Homo sapiens: one gene and its partner. The protein of the gene in region 1 purifies or fractionates together with the protein of each later gene. This does not show direct contact. Each region holds a gene or a part of one and is shown in the gene's direction. Other genes may lie near its edges.

Region 1 (2,714 bases):
CGATGGTGGATGCAGTGGCCAGGGACTTCTCCCAGGCCCTGAAGAAGAAGGTGCTGCAGAACGCCCGGGGGAGCCTGACCCTGGACGTCCAGCCCAGCATCTTCCACTACACCATAGAAGGTGTGGGCCATGCGGGAAGGTCCAGCCCCAGAGACCCTGGAGTGGCCAGGGATGGGGATGGAGGACTGAAGGGAGTGTGGGGAGGCAGCCAGGAGGCCTGGGGCTGCCTTGTGCTCAGCAGTGCATCCTCCCCGCAGCCAGCAACTTAGCTCTTTTTGGAGAGCGGCTGGGCCTGGTTGGCCACAGCCCCAGTTCTGCCAGCCTGAACTTCCTCCATGCCCTGGAGGTCATGTTCAAATCCACCGTCCAGCTCATGTTCATGCCCAGGAGCCTGTCTCGCTGGATCAGCCCCAAGGTGTGGAAGGAGCACTTTGAGGCCTGGGACTGCATCTTCCAGTACGGTGAGGCCAGGGACCCGGGCAGTGCTATGGGGAAGGGACACCATGGGGGCCCAATTTCTCCTTCTCCACCACCCAGTGGGGAATGGAGGCCACAGGGAGGGGTCGGGGATTCCTCACCTTCCTGCCGGGGAGATTGGTGCGAGGCTGGGGCTGGGCTGGGCTGATCCGGAGAATTTGGGATGAGAGCAGGGAGATTTGGGTGTCGGGGCAGTCTGGGCAGGAGGAGGACACTGAAGGATGCTTCCCAGCACCAAGATCTGAGGGCTGTCCCCTGCTCCCTGGACAGGTGACAACTGTATCCAGAAAATCTACCAGGAACTGGCCTTCAACCGCCCTCAACACTACACAGGCATCGTGGCGGAGCTCCTGTTGAAGGCGGAACTGTCACTAGAAGCCATCAAGGCCAACTCTATGGAACTCACTGCAGGGAGCGTGGACACGGTCAGGCCAGCAACCAGCCCCACCCAGAGAGGGTGATGCCAAGCCTGCCTCCCAGGCACTGCCTGCCAATGCCACACGGCACCCACGTTCCCCATCCCCAGGCTACAGGCCCCACATTTCTGTTGCCCTCAGCCTTCCCCCTCCTTTGTTAAGGGATGAGATTTGCAGGGGAGGGGAAATGTGAGCTCCCCCTCACATGAGACTGAGTTTGCAGTTACCTGTGTGGGGATCCATGCTCCAGGCTGGAAGAAAGTTGGATGAGGCCCTGGACACACAGCAGCTCTGTCCCCACTGGAAAGCTCTGGGTGTACAAGGAGAAGGAGGGTTGAGAGGCAGCTGGAGGACTCCACTGGGCACCCTTCCCAGTGTGCCCGGTCACCTTGGGCCAGAAATGTAGATGCATGGGAGGGCAGGGTTGTGGGGAAGACAGCAGCACAGGCTCCAGCCAGTGCAGAGGGGCCTGTGGGTGCACAGTGGGGAGAACTCAATGGAAGCAGAGGGAGCTGGGGCTCCAGAACTCCCTGGATGATGCTGAGGTGTGGCCCCCTGCCCTAATGGTGGCTGTGAGAACCCGCCCTGAAGAGGCTGCAGGGGACCTGGGCCTTGGTGGAGATGGGGGTCACCTTTCCCTGAAGAAGTCAGGGAATCTGGCCCAAGTGGTCATCAAGGTTTCAGATCCGGGGTCCCAGGGCTCTGTTTTTGCTCAGGGCATGGATGTCTCCACCCCTCAGAGGGAGGTTGTCCTGGGAGGGGTGTCCCGGGGGCTGAGTCCTCCTGTGCAAGGTCTGACCCTGCAGACATGGCTTCTGTAGACAGCGTTTCCCTTGCTGATGACGCTCTTTGAGCTGGCTCGGAACCCCGACGTGCAGCAGATCCTGCGCCAGGAGAGCCTGGCCGCCGCAGCCAGCATCAGTGAACATCCCCAGAAGGCAACCACCGAGCTGCCCTTGCTGCGGGCGGCCCTCAAGGAGACCTTGCGGTGGGTGCTGGCTGAGGCCTCCCTGTGGCCCTGGCCCCCTGCTGGAGAGCAGCCCCCACTGGGTGGTGGCAGACAGAATCTGGGGCTGATAAACAGCGTCACCCAGCAGCCCATTCCCCTGCACCTGCTCTTCCTCCCCCTCAAGGACAGGGAGCTCTTCTTCCTCTGGAATCCCTCTTCAACACCCTGGGGATTAACGTGGGGCATGTCCTTCTGCGCTTGGGGCTTCTCAAGTTAGGGGAGGTTTGGCTGGGCTCAGCAGGTGCAAGGAAGTACTTCCTACGACCTGGGCTTCCCATGGATCTGGGACCTCTGCGGGGTCTTCGGTAGGAAGGGTGCAGAGAGCACAGGAAGCCCCATCCAGCTGAGGACCCTTTCTATGGATGCCCCCACCTCCAGGCTCTACCCTGTGGGTCTGTTTTTGGAGCGAGTGGTGAGCTCAGACTTGGTGCTTCAGAACTACCACATCCCAGCTGGGGTGAGTGAGCCCCACACCCCTCGAGCTGAGAACCTCCCTCCCCAGTCATTCCCTGATCCCTGCTCTGCACCGTCCGCAGACATTGGTACAGGTTTTCCTCTACTCGCTGGGTCGCAATGCCGCCTTGTTCCCGAGGCCTGAGCGGTATAATCCCCAGCGCTGGCTAGACATCAGGGGCTCCGGCAGGAACTTCCACCACGTGCCCTTTGGCTTTGGCATGCGCCAGTGCCTCGGGCGGCGCCTGGCAGAGGCAGAGATGCTGCTGCTGCTGCACCACGTAAGCAGGCCTGGGGGCGGGGGCGGGACCTGGGCAGCAGAGGCGGGACCTGCACACTGGGGGCGGGGCTTGCATGGT
Region 2 (3,822 bases), on another chromosome or scaffold:
AGAGCAAGAGCTTTGATTCAGACGAACCTGGAGTCCAGCCTCACTTTCGTTGTTTTACTTATATGTTATTGGGCAAGTTACCAAATCTCCCTAAGTCTGTATTCCTTCAGCCAAATAATGGGATGACAATCTGTTTCACTGGATGATTGTGAGGTTTAAATGTGGTCATGCATCAAAGTTCCTTATACAGCACTCAGTGCACAGCAAATATTCAGTGAATATTAATTATTTTATTATGACTGCTACCAGCATCTAACGACAGTCCTAAATACCATCTAAGTTTACCAAATGTCTCTCTGATTTACTGGTGACATTGGATAAAGGAAATGCTAAGAGAATGCAGTGCAGTGGAAAGAAGGGCGGGCTGGACATCAGCGTTCTGGTCTCCATCCGGGACTGGCCAGCAGGTGGCTCTGGAAAAGGGAGTCCCTCAGGGTCACGGTTTTCTATCTGTCCTGAGGCATGATCTTCAAAGTCCATTCTAGCTTCTGTCTATGACTTTAGATCTGACAGAAATCTCCCCGGAGGAACTCATGAGCCGTAAGTTAAACATGGTTTGAAATCACCCTTGAGCTCCTTGCTGATCATGCTTATCCATGTTGAAGGCTCATCCAGGAATAATAGATGGGTCTTGTGTGTGGTTTGAAAAGTTCACTTCTGGCCAGGTGCAGTGGTGAACCCTGTAATGCCAGCACTTTGGGAGGCCAAGGTGGAAGGATCGCTTGAGGCCAAAAGTTCAAGACCAGCCTGGGCAACATAGTTAGACTTTGTCTCTAAAAAATAAAAATAAAAATTAGCTGGGCATGGTGGTACACACCTGTGGTCTCAGCTACTCAGGAGGCTGAGGCGGTAGGATCACTTGAGCCTGGGAGGTGGAAGCTGCAGTGAGCTATGATTGTGCCAGTCCACTCCAGCCTGGGCAAGACCTTGTCTCAAAAGGAAAGTACACTTTTTATTTTCACAGGAGGTAATGATACATTCAAGTTGGTTACTTTACACAAGAAGAAATTTGTGTAATTTCTTACACAAAGAAATTACACAATTTTAGATAAATTTATCTTTATCTAAAATTATAATAAATAATTTTATTATTTAATAAACAATAAATAAATCTAAAACTCATTTATGTAAAATTTGTCACTATCTAAAATTTTCATAGTAAATTGTATGGAAAATATAATATCCCGTAGATGTGTCAAGACCAGAACATAGGTCAAACAGAGCTGAACTCGAGTCTCAGGTCTGCTGGTTGACTGCTAGTGACCTTGGGCAAGTCACTTACCCTCTCCAGTTCTTGTTTTCCTCACCTGAAAATGGGAACGATATTGTCTGCCTTATCGGGCTATGATGAGAATGGAAAGCTAGAACATGTAGACTGCCCTCCATAGTGCTTGGCATGGGGTCGTTCCTTTTCCCTCCCAGATGGAACACTGCATCCATCCCGATGGAGGTTTCTAGATGATGCTCCAGAGGATTCCAAGCAGAGAACATTTACAATTTCCATACATTACAAAAGTGTGAGCCTGCAAGGCAAGGTCTGGAGCTGGGAGCACATCTGGAGCAGTGGGTGGGTACTGAGAACCATATCCACACACACAAAGAAATGTGTTCGTTCAGAAGATCCAGCATCAATTCCTTCTTCCTAAGATTTGACAAGACTGGAGTCATTTCTTCACCAGGCCCATTTTATGAAAAACCCTGGGAAAACTGAGGTCCAGCAGCCAAAGATCTAACACAGCGGAATCAGGAAAAATGGTGGACAGGCCCCTGAAGGCACGTAAGGAGCAGGGAGCCTGGTGACCTTGGTGCACCCAATGCCTCCCTAACTAGAGTAATGGAACACCAATGTGGTTTACATTCATAATCCCTTGCATTTGAGAATTTTTAAATCTACTTAAATTTTCAAACAAGGGACACTCACACCACCTCCCACACTTATTAGCATGCTGTTTTATCACTCCGATATGTTCAAGGGACCCACCCCCATAAAAGATGGAAGATGAATCAGAAAACTCAACTGGAATTGCACTCCCTAGAGGGGCCCTGGGAGTTGTTTAGATATGCATAGTCTCACCTCAAGGCACATGCTGGGTACAAGATCCCTTATCACACCTCCAGTCCTGCTCAGCTTTTTAAGGGAGCATTTCCTGATATATAGGTCTTTAACTACCAGGTGTATTTGCCCACTGTCCACCTGTGCCTTCAAGTACCGTACTTAACAAGTTGGAACCGAGGGAATGGTACACTTCACATTTTGCAACTGTTATGCAAATAGAACTTCAATGAAATTCCTCAAACTGTTGACTCTAGAAACCGTGGGAGACAAAGGGTCAGTGTCTGACTTCACGAACGTTACCAACTTGAAAAATGAGATCTATTCCTTAGTGTGTGGGAGGAAGACATTTAAATCTGTAGTACCCTCAAAGCCTCACTCTAAACCTGGTCTGGCACTTTTCAATGTGTGTTCTTTGATATGGTAAGTAGTTAAGTATATCCCACCAGAGACCTTCCAAGGATGGGTTTTTTCCTCCATATGACTTCTCTCACTCTTTGCAGGAGAATAAAATAGAGTTTCAACTGAACTTTAAAGCTGTAACCTGATCTCAGAATCATGCACCATAAACAGCATTTGTGCTTTTCAAGATACTTTCAAATCCATATAGTTTTCCAAGATATTCCTAGTTGCCACATTGGGTGATTTAATTTTTTTTTTTTTTTTTTTTTTTTGAGATGGAGTCTCACTCTGTTGCCCAGGCTGGAGAGCAGTGGCGAGATCTCGGCTCACTGCAACTTTCACCTCCCAGGTTCAAGCGATTCTTCTGCCTCAGCCTCCCAAGTAGCTGGGATTACAGACACCTGCTACCACGCATGGCTAATTTTTGTATTTTTAGGAGAGACAGGGTTTTGCCACATTGGCCAGGCCGGTCTCAAACTCCTGACCTCAGGTGATCTGCCTGCCTTGACCTCCCAAAGTAATGGGATTTCGGGTGTGATCCACCGTGCCTGGGCTGGGTGACTTAATTTTAAATGTAGGGACATCAAGCAAAATGTTGCTGAGGAGTCTCTTTCGCAGCAAAAGTCCTGTGAAATCTGCAAGGCCATCTTTTTCATGGGTCCCCAAATGTTTCACAGGCAACTGGGCAATAATTGCATTTCCAGGAATGCCAAATGGAGCCAAATCCTTTTAATAGCTCACTGACATGCAGGTTATTCCACTGGGGACCAAAAGGAAGGAACTAGAGCTCTCAAAATATTTGATTCTTGATTTGTGCTCTTCACTGGATGATTCTATTTTCTTGAGAGCATTTTTAACGAAACAGCAGCAATCAGTGATTTCTTAGAAATGTGGCCCCTTTAAATACACTTCAGTGAGGCTAGCTCTTGTGTTTCCTGGACACTCTGTGTGTTCTGGACATACTGGAGGCACAGCATAAATATTAATGCTGGCCATTACAAAAAGAAAATGAAAAGACCCCATAAGGCAGCAGTGACCCTAGAAGCCCCAGAAGCCGTGTTGGAACTGTGACAAGGAAGGATAGTGACAAGATCTGAAAAAAGCAGCCCTCTTCCCACACTCAACACATGCAGTAAACCCAGACATGCAGGGCACCATTGTCTGAGCTGTCACTGGAGGGCTGGGAGGAGACAGGGGATGGGGCAATGGCAGCCTACCCACCCCTCCTCATCACTGTCCAGGGGCATTCAGGAAACACAGGCTTCCAATATGAGGCTGCCTTTTTTTCTCACAAGCCATGCTCACTAGGAATCCATAGCGGCCATCTGCACACCGACCTGGTGGTGTCTCAAGCTTCCAGGTGTGGT

The links.
Region 2: the proteins of CYP11B2 (region 1) and TRIM2 purify together in Homo sapiens (affinity purification with western blotting; one study listed by BioGRID). This does not show direct contact.

The regions. Positions count from the first base shown.
Region 1 is NC_000008.11:142,912,452-142,915,165, reverse strand, and holds part of CYP11B2 (cytochrome P450 11B2, mitochondrial precursor), read left to right. Parts: coding exon 1-120; intron 121-257; coding exon 258-461; intron 462-747; coding exon 748-902; intron 903-1,714; coding exon 1,715-1,881; intron 1,882-2,280; coding exon 2,281-2,359; intron 2,360-2,438; coding exon 2,439-2,636; intron 2,637-2,714. UniProt on the Homo sapiens protein: A cytochrome P450 monooxygenase that catalyzes the biosynthesis of aldosterone, the main mineralocorticoid in the human body responsible for salt and water homeostasis, thus involved in blood pressure regulation, arterial hypertension, and the development of heart failure.
Region 2 is NC_000004.12:153,207,356-153,211,177, forward strand, and holds part of TRIM2 (tripartite motif-containing protein 2), read left to right. Parts: intron 1-3,822. UniProt on the Homo sapiens protein: UBE2D1-dependent E3 ubiquitin-protein ligase that mediates the ubiquitination of NEFL and of phosphorylated BCL2L11. Plays a neuroprotective function. May play a role in neuronal rapid ischemic tolerance.